Linked DNA regions of Homo sapiens. The protein of the gene in region 1 purifies or fractionates together with the protein of each later gene. This does not show direct contact. Each region holds a gene or a part of one and is shown on either strand. Other genes may lie near its edges. The genes, in order: CT45A5, PPP4R3B and TRIM26.

Region 1 (3,654 bases):
CAACCTACAGAATGGGAGGAAATTTTTGCAGTCTACTCATCTGACAAAGGGCTAATATCCAGAATCTACAACGAACTCAAACAAATTTACAAGAAAAAAACAAACAACCCCATCAACAAGCGGGCGAAGGATATGAACAGATACTTCTCAAAAGAAGACATTTATGCAGCCAACAGACACATGAAAACATGCTCATCATCACTGGCCATCAGATAAATGCAAATCAAAACCACAATGAGATACCATCTCACACCAGTTAGAATGGCAATCATTAAAAAGTCAGGAAACAACAGGTGCTGGAGAGGATGTGGACAAATAGGAACACTTTTACACTGTTGGTGGGACTGTAAACTAGTTCAACCATTGTGGAAGTCAGTGTGGCGATTCCTCAGGGATCTAGAACTAGAAATACCATTTGACCCAGCCATCCCATTACTGAGTATATACCCAAAGGATTATAAAACATGGTGCTATAAAGACACATGCACACGTATGTTTATTGTGGCACTATTCACAATAGCAAAGACTTGGAACCAACCCAAATGTCCAACAATGATAGACTGGATTAAGAAAACGTGGCACATATACACCATGGAATACTATGCAGCCATGAAAAATGATGAGTTCATGTCCTTTGTAGGGACATGGATGAAGCTGGAAACCATCATTCTCAGCAAACTATCGCAAGGACAAAAAACCAAACACCGCATGTTCTCCCTCATAGGTGGGAACTGAACAATGAGAACACATGGACACAGGAAGGGGAACATCACACACTGGGTCCTGTTGTGGGGTGTGGGGAGGGGGGAGGGATAGCATTAGGAGATATACCTAATGTTAAATGATGAGTTAATGGGTGCAGCACACAAAAATGGCACATGTATACATATGTAACAAACCTGCACGTTGTGCACATGTACCCTAAACCTTAAAGTATAATAAAAAAAAGTACCTGGCACAATTAATATTTGTTGAATAATTGAATGAATTAATTTTTTTAAAAAAAGCATAGAATGGGCTGGGTGCAGTGGCTCATGCCTGTAATCCTAGAACCTTGGGAGGCTGAGATGGGCAGATCACTTGAGGCCAGGTTTCGAGACCAGCCTGGACAACATGGCAAAACCCCATCTCCACTAAAAATACAAAAATTGCAGCGTGATGGCACCTGTGGTGCACCTGTAATCCCAGCTACTTCGAAGGCTGAAGCACAAGGATCGCTTGAACTGGGGTGAGGTCGAGGTGGCAGTGACTTGTGATCGTGTCACCGCACTCTAGCCTGGGCAACAGAGCAAGATTCTGTCTTTAAAAAAAATAAAAAGCATAGAACGTTCAAGTCGTATCTGGAAACAACAGCCTTACAGGGACTGCTACTGCAGCTCCAAATTATTGTATCAGACCAATCCTATCTAGGAACTACCTTTATTATATATATTGGATATACCCCCCCACACACGCATACATATATATATATGGGGGTGTATATATAATATGTGTAATGTGTATTATATGTATAATGGGAGATTAGAAAGTGTGTGTGTGCATGTATATATACCCCCTACCAACACACACACACACACACACACACACACACACACACACACACATTAAAATCTCCCATTAGTTCTGCCTTTTCGTTGAAGGCTGATGATACAGATTTCAACATTGAGATCGGGTTCCCACCACACGAGGGGCTAAGGAAGAGTATGTGTGATATGTCTAGAGAGCTTCTTAGTCCTCCTGTGTTTTTCGATTAGAGTTAATGGAAAATCACAGCAACCCCATCCAGGCAGGATATCTAATGGTTCAGACTCTTCCGTAATGAAGGTTTGAGTCATCCTGCCAGGCCAAGCATCATGACCAACTGACATGCTATCTCAGGGCAAAGGGAATGCGAAACGGGTAGCGAAAGAAGGTAGTTATAAACGCCAGCTACATCAGTGTGAGCTGCTGCAGAAACCACGACTGTAATAGTATTTACCTAATGGGTTAATAATATCTACCAGCACAGGTGGGAATACAAAATAACCAAAACACAAGTTATCCTTTCAAATAAAACGCTTTGGGAAAAAGAACATCTTTTACTAACAGAAATTTCTTAGCCTCTGGAAGGCCAGTTGATTCGGTAACATATGCCAGGAGACTTCAGCAATATCCTGCTCCATTGTAGAAAACAGCAATCTGATCCTTTTCTCTCCTCAATCATTAACGAGATTATGCATTTGGGGTGTGATAATCCTCCAGGGACAAGTATTCTCAAATCATACGTTTCAGTTTCTTCTTAAGGTGCTTAACAAAGTCTCGTCTCATACATCTGAAGAGAAAGAGACATGTCATTAACCAAAAGATAGCCAAAGAACCTATGCTGTAGGAAGCGCTGTGACAGATAGAAAGATGAAGTAACAGTCAGCATGGAAATAGAAATGTATCTGCATGGTAAGAGGCAGTCTAGCCGGCATAACAAATGCTGGCAAGGGTGTGGAGAAAAGGGAACCTTCATACACTGTTGGTGAGAATATAAATTACTACAACAACTAACTATGAAGAACAGTTTGGAGGTTCCTCAAACAACTAAAAATGGAGCTATCATATGATCCAGCAATCCCACTGCTGGGTATATACCCAAGAGAAAGGAAGTCAGTGTACCGAACAGATATCTGCACTCCCATGTTTGTTGCAGCACCATCCACAGTAGCCAAGATTTGGAAGCAACCTAAGTGTCCACTAACACATGAATGGGTAAAGAAAATATGGTACATATACACCACAGAGTACTGTTTAGCCATAAAAAAAAGAATGAGATTCAGTCATTTGCAACAACACGGATAGAACCGAAGGTCCTTATGTTAAGTGAAATAAGCCAGGCACAGAAAGACAAACTTCACATGTTCTCACTTATTTTTGGGAGTAAAAGTGTAAAACAACTGAACTAATGGAGATAGAGAGTAGAATGACAGTTACCAGAGGCTACAAAGGTTAGTGGGGGTGGAGGGTGTGGGAAGTGGGGATGATTAATACGTAGAAGTATGGAATAAATAAGATGTCGTATTTCATAGCCAAACAGGGTGACTATAGTCGGTAATAATTTAATTGCACATTTAAAAATAATGAAGAGTATAATTGTATTCTCTGTAACGCAAAGGATAAAAGCTTGAGGTGATAGAAACCCCACTTACCTTGATGTGATTATTACACATTGTTGTCTGTATCACAATATCTCATATAGCCCAGAAATATATGCATCTGCTATGTGCCTACACAAATTTTTTAAAAAGAGGTAGTCTAGCAAATACAAAGAGTGTCAATTGAGGGACAATGCGCACCTCAGACTATGGTGAAAATGGAAGTCTCCATAGTCTTCGAAGAATGAGTTACACTCAGATAACATTAGCCTAAGTAACTGTGGAGACAGCCATAACTGTGAGTGAGGACCAGGGTTTGAGAAACGCAAGGCAGGGGCTGTTCCCCAACGCTCACCCCCAGTGCTCTATTGAGCCCAAGTGCTTAAAGAAATTGGACAGTTCCTATTTCTACCCACCTTGCTGCTTCCTTGATGATGGATTCAAAAAATCGCTTCCTGACTGCAGTAGGTCCTTGCACTCCTTCAAGCATTTCGAAGATTTTTTCATATTCTGAAGATGTTGAAAAAAAAAAAAC
Region 2 (3,654 bases), on another chromosome or scaffold:
ATGAAGAGAGGTACAGAGCAAGGTATGGGGTAAGAGGCTCAAAGGTTGCATTACCTCCCTGGGCACATCATCCTCCAGGAACTTCCACTTAGTTATCTGGGAGCTCTCCAAACCCAGTCCTAATGGGCTTTTATGGAGGCTTCATTAAACAGGTATAATTAAGTAAATCACTGGCGACTGGTGATTAATAAACCCTCAGCCCCTCTCCCCTTCTGGAGGATGGCGGATGGGGTTCAAAGCCGCAATCTTCTAACCATGCCTTGGTCCTTCTGGTGACTAGATCTATAGATAGTACTATCTACAGTCAGGTCAATGGATATTACTAACAGAATGAAATCCAAAACCCTTTATCCAGCCATCCAATGCCTTTTCCATTTTGGCTACAATCAATGTTTGGTCCAGGTAAACATTGAAAGAGAAGGTCCAGGTAAACAACGAAATCTGAATTAAGGTAACTGAGCACCTTTTCATCATCACTTTCTTTTGCTCTTCTTTTTTTTGATACAGAGTCTCACTCTGTTGCCCAGGTTGGAATGCAGTGGTGCAATCTTGGCTCACTGCAACCTCCACCTCTGGGTTCAAGTGATTCTCCTGCCTCAGCCTCCTGAGTAGCTGGGATTACAGGCGTGTGCCACCACACCGGATTAATTTTTGTATTTTTAGTAGAGACAGGGTTTCACCATGTTGGCCAGGCTGGTCTTGAACCCCCGACCTCAGGTGATCTGCCAGCCTTGGGCTCCCAAAGTGCTGGGATTACAGGTGGGAGCCACTGCACCCAGCCCCTCATTCTTAACTTTAAATTCTTTTCTCTGATCTTGTCAAAATACCAGAAACTAAATGGGGTTTATATTTAGAGTTCTTTTCCAATGCTGAGGACTGACCCTGGGAAACAGTCAACGGTTACTGATCTTTCTTCTTCCTGATTACCAATAACTGATCCATCACATGCCCTGTCAATTCTACCTTCAATAAAGATCACAAAATCCATCCATCTCTGTCCATCTCTATCACCTCAATCCAATCCAACATTATCTTTTGCTTGGACTATGCAGCAATCTCCCAATGAGTTTCCCACTTATTGCTTCTCTTCAATTCCACAGATTGATACTATTAAGTATTTTGGATCATGTCATCACTTTGCATAAACTCTTCAAAAGCTTACTTTAAAAATCCCAACTTGGCTGGATATGGAGGCTCATGCCTGTAATCCCAGCACTTTTGGAGCCCAAAGAGGGAGAATTGTTAAGCGCAGGAGTTTGAAACCAGCCTGGGCATCATAGTGAGACCTCATCTCTACTAAACATTAAAAAAATTAGCCAGGTATGGTGGTATGCGCCTGCAGTCCCAGCTACTCAGAAGGCTGAGGTGGGAGGATCGCACCTAGGAGGTCAAGGCTGCGTGAGACTTAATCATGCCACCGTGCTTTTGGCTGGGAGACAGTCTCATCTCAAAACCACCGCCCTGCCTCCAAAAAAATTCCAAACGAAAAGATAGTGACCAGCCAGAAGCAGCACTCGATGAGGTATTTCTGGATGAATGAATATATGTGGTCAGATCAACAAGACTCAGTCTTGAGCTCTGTTCTTTTCTCAATTTATAGCTATTACCTCAAAGGAGGTTACCTTGTAGCTAAAAATTCATAATTCATCTGATTTTTTTTTTTAAAAGGCTGGAGTGCAGTTGGCTATTCACAGGTGTGATCATCACGAACTATAGCCTCAAACTCCTGGTCTCAAGTGATCCTCCTGCCTCAGCCCCGAAAAGCTGGGACTACTACTGGCATGCTAGGCCTTTTATGATTCTTAAATTAGAATCTCCTGCCGGAAAGTCTCACCCTATCTCTATTCCCAGATGTTCATTTTAAGACCTTTTCATGGGCTGGGTGTGACGACTCATGTCTGTATTCCCAGCACTTTGGAAGGCCAAGATAGGTGGGCTGCTTGAGCTCAGGAGTTCAAGACCAGCCTGAGCAACATGGCATAATCCCATATCTACAAAAAATTAGCCAGGCATGGTGTGCACACCTACAGTCCCAGCTACTCAGGAGGCTGAGGTGGGAGCCTGAGCGCAGGAAGTTAAAGCTGCAGTAAGCCATGATCACGCCACTGCACTCCAGCCTCGGCAACAAAGCAAGACTGTGTCTCAAAAAAAAAAAAAACAAAAAAAACAAAAAAACTCTTTCCATTTATTTTACTGTATGTAACTTCAAAGCCCGGATGGAAAAGAAAAAAAAAGCAAAGCACAAAACAGTATACAGTATGCTACCAGTTATACCAATAAAAGGGAAAAAATACATACAATTGTATGCATATTTGCTTACATATGCATACCTCCAGCAAGATATATAAGAAACTGGTGATGTCAGTGGCCTCTAGCAAGGGAAACTGTACGGACAGAATCTGGCGTGGGAAAGAGACTTCAATAAATACCTTTTGAATTTTTAACTGGGCTAATATATTACACACTAAAAAAAATTTTTTTTAATAAGCCTCAAACCAAAAGATTAATGTAAACCTGCTTAACTTCCCACTTTCTGGAAAGAACCATCACCTTCCTGGCCAGACTCAAAAACACTATCAGTGACCTTTGATTCCTTCTCTTTAATATTTAATCATTTACTAAATTTTCCAGCACTTTCTGGAAAATATACTGGAGCTCTGTTCCTTCAAGTCCATTTACCGTGGTGGAATAGACTTTCATTTTTTGTATCTGAATTATTGCAAAAGGTCTTGCTACTCAAAGATCTTCTGCTCCACCCTATCCCTCCTCCCCAATTTATTATTCATGACATTGCCACACTCATTTCTTTAAACACAGTATCACTTTAGGCCCCTACTCAAGAACCTGTAATGTCCCCTTCTGAACCTGTGTATTATCATATTTGGGATTGGTGGTAGGAGGGGGAGAAACCACTGCTACAAATAGGCTTAATACCTTTTGTAGCAAGTGTATTTCCTTTCCTATCACAGTTCCTTCCACTACCACCACCAAGAATGAAGTTTTTCTTAATGATTCCAGCTTATATTAACCTCTTCCTTAATTTTCTACTGCTCTAAGTCTGTGGAAAATGCAAGTTTACTTTTTATATTTTGTGTTGGCACATACCTGCTGTATAATCTCAGTCAAGAATCTTACCCTTTCTGTACCTTTGTTGCCTCATGTGTGAAATGCTTTCACGGGCTTTCAGTGAAGACTGTGGTAAAACACTGTTATAAGCTATCTTATTATCATTCTTTATCTGTTTCATCTGTTACATCCTGCCTCCAAATAAAACTGCAATGAGGATTTTCTTAAACCCAATTAACACACAATTGTGTTAAATAGGTACACATTCTTATGACTCTGGTTTTTTTTTTTTTTTTGAGAGAGTCTTCCTCTATCGCCCAGGCTGGAGTGCGGTAGCACAGTAACAGCTCACTGAAGCACTGACCTCCTGGGCTCAAGCAATTCTCCCACCTCAGATTCCCAAGCAGCTGGGACTACAGGTGTGTGTCACCATGCCCAGCTAATTTATATTTTTTGCAGTGAGAGTCTCAGTATGTTGCCCAGGCTGGTCTTGAACTCCTGGACTAAAGTGATCCTCCTGCCTCAGCCTCCCAAAGTGTTGAGATTACAAGTGTGAGCCACTGTGCCTAGTATGACTCTTGTTTTTTA
Region 3 (3,654 bases), on another chromosome or scaffold:
TCTCAAACTCCTAGGCTCAAGCCATCCTCCCACCTCAGCCTCCCAAAGTGCTGGGATTATAGGCATGAGCAACTGCACCATGTCTAAAATTATTTTCTTAATGGTATTTACTGAGGTTATGTATGAGAATGCCTATACTTCTTATTTATTTATTAATATATTTATTTATTTTTGAGATGGAGTTTTTCTCTTGTTGCCCAGGCTGGAGTGCAATGGCGCAATCTGGCTCACTACAACCTTCGCTTGCCAGGTTCAAGCGATTCTCCTGCCTCAGCCTCCCTAGTAGCTGGGATTACAGGTGCCCACCACCACATCCGGCTAATTTTTTGTAGTTTTAGTAGAGACGGGGTTTCACCAGGTTGGCCAGGCTGGTCTCAAACTCCTGACCTCAGGTGATCCACCTGCCTTGGCTTCCCAAAGTGCTGGGATTACAGGTGTGAGCCACCGCGCCCGGCTGAGAATACCTGTATTTCTAGGCAATGGATGCTGTAGTATTTAGAGCTCCATGTCTCCCACCTAATTTGAAATGGTTCCTTTCTTTTTTTTTTTTTTGAGACAGGGTCTTACTCTGTCCCCCGAGTGCAGTGGAACTATCTTGGCTCACTGCAAAGCAAAATAAAAAGCTAGAAAAGTTTTCTGGGGAGGGAGCTACAGTTTTCTATCACATTCTTAAAGAGGTCTGTAGTAACCATCAAAAATGGTTAAATCACTGATACAGAGATCATGGTGCTTGACACCTTGTAGAAGCTCAATACACATTTACTGAACAAGTGAATGGATTCAGGGGAATTGCAGACAATGTTAGTTGTATAGAACCATTTGTTTTTGAGAGTCTGCCATAACCAGATAAATGAAACACAGTACCACTTCTATGACCAATCCCTTCCCTTGCTTATACAGACTCCTTCTGAGGAAACTGAGGCTCAGCAGGGTTAAGCAACTTGCCCAAGAGCACATGGCTAGGAAGCAGTGTCTGGTGCCAAGGCCTCTGCTCAATCCACTACACTCTCTTCCCTACCCAGGCACACTGTAAAATGGGGTCTAATACCAGCTCCTTTGTTAGGAAGCTCAGATGAGGTCATCTACATGGAAGGGCTTTGTAAGCGGAGTAATGCTGACAAAAGAAAGGGGGCATATATTCTGCTGATACTGACCAAAAGCACCCTAGCCTTAGCTATGACAAACTTTCACATATGGGGTGAGCAATAAAGTGTCCCTGTTGGACAGTAGTTTTCCTTCTTAGTGATAGAGGATCTCAAGATTTCAGAATTAGGAGAAATGAGGTTGAGTATGAGAGATGTGAGCAGACCAGAATAACCGCTCCCCTTCCCCATACACAATTCTGTCAGGTCCAATGCAAAATTCACCCTCTCCAAAAACTCTTCCCCAACTTACCGCACCCTGCTATGGTTCTGCCCTTTTATGCCGTCAGTATATTCTCTGTGATCTCAACAGGTTTCCACAATAAGAGGTAAAACCATTACCCTTCTCTCCATTCCTGACTCCTGGGCAGACAGAAACCAAAATCAGAGCCAAAAAAAAAAAACCTCAGAGATGACCCACTCCACCCCCACTCCCTTTACTCAGATGAGAATTCTGAACCTGAAGAAGTCACTTCATGAACTCCCTTGCACCAGAGGTCACACATCCCTGCTGGGGGTGAGGGGGTATTTTTCTGTCTCTTCAATAAACCAGAAGCGGCCGGGCGCGGTGGCTTCTGCCTGTAATCCTAGCACTCTGGGAGGCAGAGGCGGGTGGATCACCTGAGATCGGGAGTTTGAGACCAGCCTGACCAACAAGGAGAAACCCCATCTCTACTAACAATACAAAATTAGCCAGGTGTGGTGGCGCATGCCTATAATCCCAGCTACTGGGCAGGCTGAGGCAGGAGAATCGCTTGAACCCAGGAGGCGGAGGTTGCAGTGAGCTGAGATCACGCCAATTGCACTCCAGCCTGGGCAACAAGAGCAAAACTCCATCTCAAAAAATAAAAATGAAAAAATAAACCAGAAGCTAGCTGCAATTCTATAGAACCAGGAAGATGCAACAAACAAGCCCTGCAATGTCCTGGTACCCTCCTCACAGGCAGAACTGCAGACACTCCCTACCTTTCTCTAAGAGGTTCCCTTTTCCCTGAAATCCACCCCTCCCCTATAAGTCTCTGGATCTCATAAATACCTAATCTGCATATGTCAACAGACTGGTCAAGGTGACACCATGTAATTTCAAGATGTGGATGCATGCACGATTATTGGCTCCAAGAATAATCACTATGAGCTACAAAAACTAGCTGAAAGCCGGGCACGGGGGCTTGTGCCTGTAATTCCAGCACTGTGGGAGGCTAAGGCAGGAGGACTGCCTGAGCCCAGGAGTTTGAGACCAGCCTGGGTAATATAGTGAGACATTGTCTCCAAAAAAAGAAATTAGCTGAATTAGCTGGGTGCGATGGCACATGCCTATAGTTCCAGCTACTTAGGAAGTTGAGGCAGGAGGATCTCCCGAGCCCGGGAAGTTGAGGCTGCAGACAGCCATGACTGCGCCACTGCACTCCAGCCTGGGTGAAACTCTGGCCTGCCTCCGGCTCCTAGATGCCACCCAGAGAGGTGCCCTGGTAGACAGTGAATCCCAAATGTGGACTCTGGGGCCCAAGAAAGTAAATGGAGAGGCCTGGGTTTTCATCCTGGCCTCCAGGGTACCAGTTCAGGCCTCTCTTGAGTATCCCAAGCTGCTTCTCAAGCATATGTCTGGACCTCCAAACAAGAGCAAAGCACCTGTAATCCCAAAGCACTTAGCCTAGAGCTCCATTCCCTGTGGGTACTCCATTTAAGGGCTCCTGGGTCCCAGATTAATCCCCATATTTTAATCTGAGATAAGCAAACTCTCCATGGGGTAAACTTCCGTGAGACACCTCTAACAAACCTGGAGAGGCCAGAATTCGGGGCAAAAAGCAAGTGATCTGGATGTGCATACTAGGAGTGACTGCACCCCTACTGGCCAGGCCAAAGGCCTGGATCCCAGGCTGTCCCAGGAGATCCCAGTGACTGTGGATGATGCGTTCTTGTGGTCACACTTGGCTTACTTTCCCCACGGAGCCGAGCATCAGTGGTGCTCTGAAGCACAGTGCAGGCCACAAAAACTACCAGGGCTCTGAACGCTAGAAATCCCCACAGGGCTCAAAGAGGGGCAGGAGGTAGCAGCCAGCTGGGAGGTGGATGAGACAAGGCGTTAAATTGCCCTGGTCTTGTGGCTGACCCACAGGGGAAAATTGAGGGTTCTTCATATTTGTGCCAGAATATCTGTCTAATGTTGAATCATGAACCAAGCTCTCTTGTCTAAAATATTCCTAAGTGTCACTTGGTGCTTTGCACCAAATATAGGAAGGAATCCTTTATCATCTTGTGGAATGGTTCAAACCTTGACTACACATCAGATTTGTAGTCTTCAAACTGGTGAGTCTTCAAAACATACCTAGACCAACTGACTTAGGATCTCCAGAGGTGGCCCAGGCTCTGGTATTAAAAAACAAACTTCCCAGGAGATTCTAAAGTCTATCCAGGACTGTGAATCACTAGAACCCCTTATTTACAGAGGAGGACAGTGAGTGCCAGAGCCTCGGACTCATTTGCCCAGCAGCAGAGCTGGCTGGCAGCAAGG

Evidence for each region.
Region 2: the proteins of CT45A5 (region 1) and PPP4R3B purify together in Homo sapiens (affinity purification with mass spectrometry, with the first as the bait; one large-scale study listed by BioGRID). This does not show direct contact.
Region 3: the proteins of CT45A5 (region 1) and TRIM26 purify together in Homo sapiens (affinity purification with mass spectrometry, with the first as the bait; one large-scale study listed by BioGRID). This does not show direct contact.

Annotation. Positions count from the first base shown.
Region 1 is NC_000023.11:135,775,383-135,779,036, forward strand, and holds the end of CT45A5 (cancer/testis antigen family 45 member A5), read right to left. Parts: intron 3,630-3,654; coding exon 3,536-3,629; intron 2,312-3,535; coding exon 2,254-2,311; 3' UTR 470-2,253; downstream 1-469.
Region 2 is NC_000002.12:55,607,524-55,611,177, forward strand, and holds part of PPP4R3B (serine/threonine-protein phosphatase 4 regulatory subunit 3B), read right to left. Parts: intron 1-3,654. UniProt on the Homo sapiens protein: Regulatory subunit of serine/threonine-protein phosphatase 4 (PP4). May regulate the activity of PPP4C at centrosomal microtubule organizing centers.
Region 3 is NC_000006.12:30,203,261-30,206,914, forward strand, and holds part of TRIM26 (tripartite motif-containing protein 26), read right to left. Parts: intron 1,506-3,654; 5' UTR 1,396-1,505; intron 1-1,395.